Homo sapiens: one gene and its partners. The protein of the gene in region 3 purifies or fractionates together with the protein of the main gene of each other region. This does not show direct contact. Each region holds a gene or a part of one and is shown on either strand. Other genes may lie near its edges.

Evidence for each region.
Region 1: the proteins of STXBP6 (region 3) and XPNPEP1 purify together in Homo sapiens (affinity purification with mass spectrometry; one large-scale study listed by BioGRID and IntAct). This does not show direct contact.
Region 2: the proteins of STXBP6 (region 3) and ALS2 purify together in Homo sapiens (affinity purification with mass spectrometry; 2 studies listed by BioGRID and IntAct, with this or other methods). This does not show direct contact.

What each region holds. Positions count from the first base shown.
Region 1 is NC_000010.11:109,916,980-109,920,632, forward strand, and holds part of XPNPEP1 (xaa-Pro aminopeptidase 1), read right to left. Parts: intron 1-3,653. UniProt on the Homo sapiens protein: Metalloaminopeptidase that catalyzes the removal of a penultimate prolyl residue from the N-termini of peptides, such as Arg-Pro-Pro. Contributes to the degradation of bradykinin.
Region 2 is NC_000002.12:201,770,860-201,774,512, forward strand, and holds part of ALS2 (alsin), read right to left. Parts: intron 1-3,653. UniProt on the Homo sapiens protein: May act as a GTPase regulator. Controls survival and growth of spinal motoneurons.
Region 3 is NC_000014.9:24,816,065-24,819,717, reverse strand, and holds part of STXBP6 (syntaxin-binding protein 6), read left to right. Parts: exon of another isoform or gene 1-523; coding exon 524-681; exon of another isoform or gene 682-728; intron 729-824; exon of another isoform or gene 825-1,360; intron 1,361-3,653. UniProt on the Homo sapiens protein: Forms non-fusogenic complexes with SNAP25 and STX1A and may thereby modulate the formation of functional SNARE complexes and exocytosis.

The DNA of each region.
Region 1 (3,653 bases), on a different chromosome or scaffold from region 3:
AAAGTTATTACAAAACCTACAGCTAACATCATTCTTAATGCTGAAAGACTGAATGCTTTCCCCTATAATCTAGGGAATGTCTACTCTTGGCAGAGTAGACAGGGATGTCTACTCTTGGCATTTCTATTCAACATTGTACCAGAAGTTCTATCTAGGGTAAGTAGGCAAGAAAATGAAACAAAAGGCATCCAGTTTAGAAAAGAAGAAGTAAAACTATCTCTATTTGCAATTGACATAATCTTGAATACAGAAAATCCTAAAGAATCCACAAACAAAATTAGAACTAATAACTGAGTTCATCAAGAATGCAGGATACAAAAATCAATATTTAAAAAATCAATTTGACTTCTATATCCTTGTAATGAGCAATTCAAAAATAAAATTAAGAAAAGTCCATTTACAATATCAAAAACAAAAAATAGTTAGAAATAAATTTAACAAAAGAAGTGCAAAATGTACACCACAAAAACTAAAAAAGACTGCTGAAAGTAACTGAAGAAGACCTAAATAAACAAAAGCTATTCCATGGTCATGGATTGGAAGGTTTACTATTGGTAAGATGGCAGTAATTCCCAAATTGATCTATGGACTCAATGCATTCCCTGCCAAAATTCTAGCTAGCTTGGAGGTTGAAACTGACAAGCAGATTCTAAAATTCATATGGAAATGCAAGGGACCCAGAATAGCCAAAACAATCTTGAAAAAGAACAAAATCTTGAAAAGAACTCTTCCATCCCAATTTCAAACCTAAATACAAGACAGTGTGGTGCTAGCATAAGAATGGACTTACAAATGAGTAAAACAGAATTAACAGTCCAGAAATAAACCCTCACAACTGTCAACTGATTTTTGAGGATGCCAAAACCATTCAATGGGGAAGGAATAGTCTCTTCCACAAATGGTGCTGGGACAAGTGAATATCCACATGCAAAAGAATAAAGTTTCCAACATGGCAAAACTCCGTTTCTACAAAAAATACAAAAATTAGTCAGGCATGGTGGTGTGCACCTGTAGTCTCAGCTACTCTGGAGGCTGAGGTGGGGTGGATCACTTGAGCCCTGGAGGTCAAGGCTGCAGTGAGCCATGATAGCACCACTGCACTCCAGCTTGGGTTACAGAGCAAGACCCTGCCTCAAAAAAAAAAACAAAAAAACAAAAAAGCCCAGGCACAATGACTCACATCTGTAATCCCAGCACTTTGGGAGGCCAAGGCAGGCAGACTGCCTGAGTCCCAGGGTTCGAGACTAGCTTGGGCAACATGGCAAAACCCATCTCTACAAAATTTACAAAAATGAGCCAGGTTTGGTGGTGCACACCTGTGGTCCCAGCTACTTAGGAGGCTGAGGCAGGAGGATCGCTTAAGCCAGAGAGGTTGAGGCAGCAGTGAGCTGTGATCGCCCCACTGCAGTCTAGCCTTGGTGACACAGAGAGACCCTGTCTCAAAAAAAGAAAAATGAAGTTTAACCCACTTCATATCATATTCAAAAATTAACACAAATGGGCCGGGCACGGTGGCTCACGCCTGTAATCCCAGCACTTTGGGAGGCCGAGGTGGGCAGATCACGAGGTCAGGAGATCCAGACCATCCTGGCTAACACGGTGAAACCCTGTCTCTACTAAAAATACAAAAAATTAGCCAGGCATGGTGGCGGGCGCATGTAGTCCCAGCTACTCGGAAGGCTGAGGCAGGAGAATGGTGTGAACCCAGGAGGGGGAGCTTGCAGTGAGCTGAGATCGGGCCACTGCACTCCAGCCTGGGCGACAGAGCAAGAGAAAAGGAAAGAAAGAAAGGAAGACAGGAAGGAAGGAGAGGAAGGAGAGGAAGGAAAGGAAAGAAAGGAAAGAAAGGAAAGGAGGAAGGAAGGAAGGAAGGAAGGAGGGAAGGAAGGAAGGAAGGAAGGAAGGAAGGAAGGAAGGAAGGAAGGAAGGAAGGAAGGAGAGAGAGAAAAAAGAAAAAGAACGAAAAGGAAGGAAAGGAAGGAAAGAAAAGAAAGAAAGAAAATAAAAAAAAATTAACCCAAATGGATCACAGGTATGAACGTAGGCGCTAAACTGTAAAACTCTTATAGCGCAACCATAAGTCTGCCTGACCTTGGATTAGGCAATGACTTCTTTAGACACAAATCAAAAAGCACAGCAACAAAAGAAAAAAGAGATACACTGGACTTCATCAGAATTTAAAATGTTTGTGTTTCAAAGGATACCATCAAGAAAATGGATGACAACCCACAGAATGGGAGAAAACATCTGTAAATCTGTTGAGTCTAGTATCCAGAATATATAAAGAACTATTATAACTCAACAATAAAAAGACATATAACCCAATTTTAAATGGGCTAAGGATCTGAATAGACATTTCTCCAGCAAAAGTACACAAATGACCAAGAAGTACATGAAAAGATGCTCATCATTAGTCATTAGGGAAACACAAATCGAAACCACAATGTGATACCACTTCACACCCACTAGGAAGGTTATAATAAAAAAGATTGACAGTAACAAGTGCGGGTGAGGGTATAGAAAAAATTAGAACCCTCAAACATTCCTGATGAGAATGTAAAATGGTGTAATGGCTTTGGAAAACCATTCCTAGGTACACAATCAAGAAAATTGAAAATATATATCCTTATAAAAAGTTGTACACAAATATTCACAGCTGCATTATTTGTAACAGCCAAACTGTAGGAACAACTCAAATGCCCAACTGATAAATGGATAAATAAAAGTGTCTATCCATATAATGGAATGTTCTTTGCCAATAAAGGGAAATCACGCCAGGCGCGGTAGCTCACGCCTGTAATCCCAGCACTTTGGGAGGCTGAGACGGGCAGATCATGAGGTCAAGAGATAGAGACCATCCTGGCCAACATGGTGAAACCCCATCTCTACTGAAAATACAAAAATTAGCTGGGTGTGGTGGTGCACACCTGTAGTCCCAGCTACTCAGGAGGCTGAGGCAGGAGAATCACTTGAACCCGGGAGGTGGAGGCTGCAGTGAGCCAAGATCGTGCCACTGCACTCCAGCCTGGCAACAGAGCAAGACTCCGTCTCATTTAAAAAAAAAAAAAGAAAGAAAAGAAAGAAATCACACCTATGACATAGGTGAACCTTGAAAACATGCTAAGGGAAAAAGCCTAATACAAAAGACCACATAGTATATGATTCTATTCACATAAAATGTCCAGAATAGGCAAATCGGTAAAGACAGGAAGTAGACATGCAGTGTTGGTGGTTGCCAAGGGCTGAGGTGAGGAGTGACTGATTACAGGTAACAGGATTTCTTTCGGGGATGAAGAAAATGTTCTAAAATGATTGTGATGATAGTTGTACAACTCTGTGACTATACTAATAACTTGAATTGTACATTTTAACAGATGAATTGTATATAAGTGAATTATATCTCAATAAAGCCATTATAAATTTTATAACATCTCTTTCTTGTGGACAGGGATACAAGTCAGATTCTCACCGAATTTCCCATTACTTCATACGTAAGTTTCTAAGATGGTAAGTAACTGATCCCAATGACTGGTTCAGACACATGACTACAGAGGTGGAAGGTTATCATTTTTTTAGAGACAGGGTCTTGCTGTGTCACTCAGGCTGGAGTGCAGTGGCACAATCTTAGCTTATGGCAGCCTCAAACTCCTAAG
Region 2 (3,653 bases), on a different chromosome or scaffold from region 3:
AGCCATGCCGACACCTTGACTTTAGTCTACAAGACCTGTGACAGACTTTCAGCCCACAGAACTTGAAGATAATATATTTATTTGTGTTATTTTAAGCCACTAAGTTCATAACAATTTGTTGCAGCTGCAGTAGAAAACTAATATATTATTTCACAGACATCTTTTTACATCAGTATTTACAGATTTTTTTTTTTTTTTTTTTTTGAGACGGAGTTTTGCTCTTGTCACCCAGGCTGGAGTGCAATGGCACGCTCTCGGTTCATTGCAACCTCCGCCTCCCAGGTTCAAGCAATTCTCCTGCCTCAGCCTCCCGAGTAGCTGGGATTACAGGCACCCGCCATTACGCCTAGCTAATTTTTGTATTTTTAGTAGAGACGGGGTTTCACCATGTTGGCCAGGCTGGTCTCGAACTCCTGACCTCAGGTGATCCACCTGCCTCGGCCTCCCAAAGTGCTGGGATTACAGGTATGAGCCACCTTGAGCCACCGCGCCCGGCCCCTATCTCATTTTGTTTTAATGGTGTTTAATATGTTTGACATCTTCCAACAAGATACGTCTGCCTGAAACTCCAATAGGGCAATGAAGAAAACTGATTGCTGAGGAAACATAACTAAAAAGGAATATTGCAACTAAATGTGGGGATCTTATGTTATTAAAGTTTTATCCTCATATACTTAAGTAAGGGTGGTATTTACCAACTCTATTTAATCTAACATTCTTTCTCAATTACGTATCCATCCAGGAAAAGAAAGTAAATGAAAAACTTTTGTCTTTCTAATATTTTTATGATTGTCTCTCCAGGAAATCTATTAAGACTCACCTCAACCAGTCAAATAGCATTCAAATTTCTGTATGTTATTTCATTGCTTTAACATTTTAAGTTTTTATAAAATTGCCTAATCATAAAACTTCCTCTGGGGATATTTCTTCCAGAGAAGCTTTAAGGTCTTTATCATTCCTTAAGAGGGCAAGATCCTTGTACTCTGCTGCTTTTCTTCTGTTACAGTAACTTTCCTGCATAGACCTGTTAACCAGCTCTGATAAAGAAGCCATGTGATGTTGCATAAACAGCATTTACTGTGGGACCCTCTCTTACCTTGCATGGCCTCTCCACAGATAAATGGCATCTCCGTAAAATGAGCAAACCAGACTTCAGTCTTCTGAACCGCAGGACACAGCTAGATTCACTTTAAAGCATACCACTCTATCCTTCAAATTATTATCTCCTTCACAGTGATATGTAAAGTAACAAAACCCCAGGGGGCCCTTTAAACAAAGAGCAAACCTTGCTTCTTAATAAACTGATGCCACTTTTAGACTCCACTGGATACACATCCTTCTGTTACATCTAACAGAGAAATAAGTTGTCCTGTACGAGCCAAGGATATCATTTTAATACCATGATCTGGAAGTGCCCTTAACAACAACAACAACAACAACAATCTAGTCTAGATGTCCCAACTGTTAGAAAGATGAGCTACAACCATCTTACAGGTCTACAATACCTTAACCAGAAATCTATAGCTCTGAAAATTAAAAGTTTTTTCAATAACACTTTTGGTGGCAAAATCTAATCTGACCTGAACTCATCTGACAGCAAAATCTGACCTGAACTGATATGAGGTTATTTATCACTTTTATCCCTTTAGTGTGAATATTCATACATCGTGTTGTAGAAATATCAGTATGAATAGGGCAGCACCACAGATCCCACAGGAAGTGTTATATAATATATAGTTTATGCATCTTACTCTAAAGAACAAAACATAAATCTGAATTCCAAAATGCACCTTGCCCCAAGGGTTTTGAATAAAGGACCAGGAATCTATATTCAAAAACAACTATCGTTTTTTAGTAGAAGTCTCAAAACTTTTAACTATTTTATACTTAACTTGGTTTCTTTTATGTACTTTGAACATTTACTTCATTTTGGAGAGTACACTGGGGAGTTGCATTGCTTCCAGTGGGACAGTCTATGGATGCTTTCATGATTTTTTTTTTTTTTTTTTTTTTCATTTTTGAGATGGAGTCTTGCACTGTCGCCTGGGCTAGAGTGCAATGGCATGATCTCAGCTCACTGCAACCTCCACCTCCTGGGTTCACATGATTCTCCTGCCTCAGCCTCCCGAGTAGCTGGGATTACAGGTGCACACCACCACACCTGGCTAATTTTTGTATTTTTAGTAGAGACAGGGTTTCACTATGTTGCCCAGACTGGTCTTGAAATCCTGACCTTGTGACCTGCCCACCTTGGACTCCCAAAGTGCTGGGATTACAGGCGTGAGCCAATGCGAAGGGCCAATGATTTATTTCAATGACGATTTACATTTGTTTCAAAAGTTTTAAACCAATTTTATGGTGAACACTCACGGAGCACCAAAATGAATTTTTGCAAGGAATATCCTGCCTGCAAATACTCCATCGGCTCATCTTCTCAATGGAGGAAGGAAGCCTGGGTTCTTAAGTTTCATACAATGCTGCCAATTTGGTGAAGAAGAGGTGAATAAATGAGAGATGCTCTGGGGGCAGAACAACTAGTACTTGGTGATTAGACAAAGGTGGGGGACCAAGGAGAAGCAGGTATCAGAAATGATCCCTGGTTCTGCCTCAAATAGCTGTGTGTTGGTGGCTCCATTTCCTGAAATGGGCAAGAGTGAGGGAGATACGATTCTGAAGCAAAGATAAGATTCTGGTAGGATAAAATTTATTTTTAAGTTCAAGATGTCTGTGAGAAACCCAAGAGTACATATTAAGTGAATAGCTGAATATATGAACATGGAGTTCAAGAGAAAAGTCTCAGCAGCTGCTAAACTTGGGAGGGCGTATGGATAGTGTTTAAAAACAAGACAATAGATAATGTCATTGGGTATATGGAAAGAGAAAGGAAAGCGCAGTGTCAAGCTTTAAGGAGCTCCTGCGCCTGGAAGTTGGATAGGATGAGGATCGGACAAAGAGGACTGAGACTGAGAAGTGGTCTGCCGTGGGCACATGAAAGCAAAGGAAAGCACTTCAGGGAGGACGTCAATTAGGTCAAGGCAGCTGGGGTCTTGTAAGATAACTAAAGTGTCCATTGGATTTGCCAACACAGGTAACGGCTGAGCATGGCCACAATCTCAGTGGTTTGTTTGGGCACTGAAAACCAGATTGAAGTAAGCTGAATATAAACAGGAGGTGACAATGTGGAAATATCTTTATTTTCAGTGGGTGATCCTTTTGAAAAATGTTGAAATGGCAAACAAAGAAATGGAGCAGTAGCTGAAGGGGAATGTGAAAATGAAGGGTTTTCTTTTGCTGGAGGTTGGGGAGATGGGAGGAAGCTGAATATGTCTGCATGACAAAGGCTGTGGTCCTGGATACAAGGATGATGAGGACAGTGGGCAGAGCCAAAGTCCCAGACAAAGTGAAGGAGGATGCCATCCAGAATATATGTGGGGGGATTGTTTTTTTCATAAGAAGAAAGGTCTACGTTTTTGAAAGAAGAGAGATCACAGGTACAGATATAAGCAGAATTATACATTTTGTGGTGGGAGGATAAGGGTTCCATATGATGGTACCTGGAAGTGAAGAGGACTTCACAGTATGCATGTTGTATAGTCTGTTTCTTTATTTTATCCCACCCTGCTATACATTTTTGTAAGCTGCTTTAAATCCTT
Region 3 (3,653 bases):
TGGATGAAGGGGTAAAATGAAGAAGAAGCATTGGAAGGAATATAGAGCATTCTATCTAGAAAAGTTCTGTGGTCCCAGTTTTCCTATGGTTATTCACCGAAACCACAGGTCAAAAGGAAATAACATAAGATCCAGATATGTCTCATTGAACTTGCCTAATTCTGTGAACTTGTCAACGTTTTCATTTATCTTTGCAAGCCAAGTTGTAAATCCAGACAGGCCCCATCCTTTTGAGCCTCCACAGATAGAATACTGGCAGAATGGAAATGACTGGCATGTCAGTGATGAGTTTATAGAGAAGCATTTAGGATTTTCCTAGGTCCTGCAGTCAGTGGGTGTTCTTGCTGCAAGTGCGTCAGTCAAACCCAATCAAAAGAAATGTCGGCTTGTTTCCTAGACACTAGACGAGCGGCCTTTCTGCAGTGTGACCTGCCTTCCTCTTACAGGATACTCACCCTGCCGGAGTCTGGTCACTGTGGGTCAGCTGAGCCAGTTTCTGATGCTCCTGCTCTCCTCCTTTCAGGAAACAGCATCCTCCATTCAGCTGCTGACAGCGTGACCAGCGCAGTGCAGAAGGCAAGCCAGGCCTTGAATGAGCGTGGAGAGCGATTAGGCCGAGCAGAGGAGAAGACAGAAGACCTGAAGAACAGCGCCCAGCAGTTTGCAGAAACTGCGCACAAGGTGGGCCAAGAGAGGAGCAGGCTTCTCAGCTCTGGGGTGTTGGGGAGCTACAGTGCCAAGAAACTTTATTTCAGTATTTTCCTGTGATGAGAGATATAAAATTAAGCTATTTCCCCTTTATGTAATTCCCATCTGCTACTTACTAAACACCTGAGTCGTGGAAAATTTCTTCTTGTACCTGGTTTCTTTGGCTCTTTTCTAATGTCCTCAGCCGTATCTCTGACCTTCTGACCTTGGATCTTTAGGAACTATGGACCATCTTTAGTTCCTGCTCAGAAGTTTAGGGCTCAAGTATCGAGGCACAGAACAGGGGGTCGGGGAGAAGAGATCAGGTCTTCGAATATCCCTGCCCCACTTAGCCAACACATGGAGGACGTGAGGCTGCTCGTGCTTGCTTTTCCATCCTGTCCCTTTCTCATCCTGAGTGTAGCAGTGTGTCCTTATCTCTTCACCAGACACAAAGCAAGCCCCAGTCCCAGGGAACTACGCACCTCGGGGCTAGTTTTCCCTCGGAGAGGGGTCGATTGTTATTTCAGGGCCTCAATTCTGGGGCTCTGAGCTTGACCGGACCAGCGCTGAGCTGTCAGCAATACTCCCTGCTGCCCCTGAATCCAGAGAAGGGCATTTCCTGCGTGACTGAGTGCGCACTCTGCACATTCTCATACTCGCTGAGAACTGTGCCTTTTAGAAGGGAAAGGGGCAGTTTTTATTGGCAGCCAGCTATCTAAGGCAGTCACAAACCAAAGGAAAGAGAGGCCCTGTTGGTCAGGTGATAAAGAGGATTTATTACTGTTGTTGTGCTTCAGATCAAAGGGCAGTTTTTTTTCTGGTTAGTGGTTTGAATTTAGCCTTCCAGAAACAACATCTGCTGATGACTTGTGTTGGCATGTCAGGCTTATGATCTGGCCCTTCAAATACACTTTTCAGGTGACCTTTCGGGGAAGAAAATAACTGGCTTTAACAGAAACACCACTTCTGCTGAGGAAACAAGGATGGATAACCTAAAAAGCAATGAGAAGAATATTCCCAGCTGAGTTGCGGTGACCTCTTCTGGAGGCTCACGCTCAGGTCCAGCTGGGGATCCAGCTCTAAGTGGATGACTCCTGCCTTCTCTTCCTGCATCCCCTTTGCACAGCGCTGTCTTGTCATCTCATTCATTCTCTGTCGTGACAGGGTCTTACTGCACTGTTGCCCGTGGGGCCCATTTCGAGTTCCTTCAAGGAGAATTGGCTAGATCTATCTGAAAATGCAGACAGCCCTGCTGGAGGCCAGAGCCTCAGATTGCTGCTGTTGGTGCAGAGGCAGAGAGTGAACTTGGATTGAAGGTCTCCCTAGTTCCTTCCTCCTTTCTCCAGCCTCTGTGACACAGAGATAATGATGACATGGAAATGCTGGCATTACAGCCTCAGCTTCTTTAACAACAACAGCAGCTTCCGTGATTTCAGTGGGAGACGGATAGTGGAAATCTGGGGAAACATTTAAGTTGTTGAGTTGGGTAGAGGAGGCTAAAGGGAATAACTTTATAACAGTCTTCAGTTCTGGGAAGGGTGATGGTACAGGCATTTTTCTTTCATGTCTTCCCACACAGAATAGAGCAATCAATAGTGCACTGATAAAATTCTGCTAAAACAAGAGTTTAGGTTAATGATTAAACCATGAACCAGGTTACCAAGGAAGATTGTAAAATTGCTCTTCCTAAGGTGGCATAGACAATACCTGGATGTCGTCCACGTAGGCGTCCCTCCCAGAGGGGGCTGTACAAACACTGGATTGGATAACCTAACCAGATGGCCTGAATTCTTGGCCCTGGTAGCCCTGTTTCCCTGATACTGTGGCCAAGTTTGCGAGGCAATTGGGAAAGCAATATGGAATAGTAGTTAACATCTTGTGTTTGAATATAGCGCTGTCATTTACCATCTTGGTGACCTTGGGCAAATGCTTAATTTCTCTAAGCCTCAGTTTTCTCATCAGTAGAATAGAGCACTATTCTTTATGAGAATAGTACCTACGTACTAGAGTGTTCAGAGAATTGAATGAGTTCAAAGCTATTAGCACAGTATGTAGCACATATAAATCTAAATTACTATTATTTGTAATCATTTTCATAAATTTTTTTTCTACTGACCCTGCCCTATTCAGTCACATAATGAGCACTGTAGAGGGATTGGAGAATTGATACTGGTGATTGAGGATCCTCAACACAGGGACAGGGAAGGAATGGAGGAGAAGATTTTGTGCCTCCCAAACCCAAAGGGAAAGGGGTGTGGGAGGGCCCTCATGCTAAATGTTGATACTATCTAAACACAGATCAGCCCTTGAAACAGGACCCATCAGGATAGAAACTAATGCGGCCACCAAAGGCAAAGGGGTCTCTGGCTTGACCAGTGGGAAAATTTATGCCTAGCAGTTACCTGCTTTCACTCGGGAGGGGTGAGGCGTGGACAGCTTGTGTTTATTTTGGTTTCCCCTCCCTCAGGTCATCTCGGGGGGAAGAGGAGGGGTTACTAGTGTCTGTTAATGTGTATGAGAGTGAGAGAGTGTCATGGCCAGACTTGCAGTTGTGTGAAACTGGGATGTGTGCCTATGAATCACTGGCACTGGCAGTATTCCTAACAAGCAGATTGACCTCTTTAGATAAGGTGTGGCTATTTTCCCAGGGACCAGGACTCTTGATTTGGACCTGCTAGCATAGGCTGACCATGAAGCTGTCATTTTACTGGACAAGCCACAGCCAGGCCTGCTGGTGAGGGGAGAGTTCAGAGATGGAACCCAAGCATTCTACCCCCTAGACAAGCATGGCTCTGTTGACTCAGAAGGAGTAAGCTGTGCTTACAAGTGGGGGCCAGAACACATGGCAGAGTCCTGAGCTGAAAATGGCAATGCCAGGTGGCAGCTCCTAGAGCTCCCAGTTGAATAAGGGTGCCGAACCCCAGCTGGAGAGTTTGGCACACCTTTGTAGAGTCCAGTAGAAA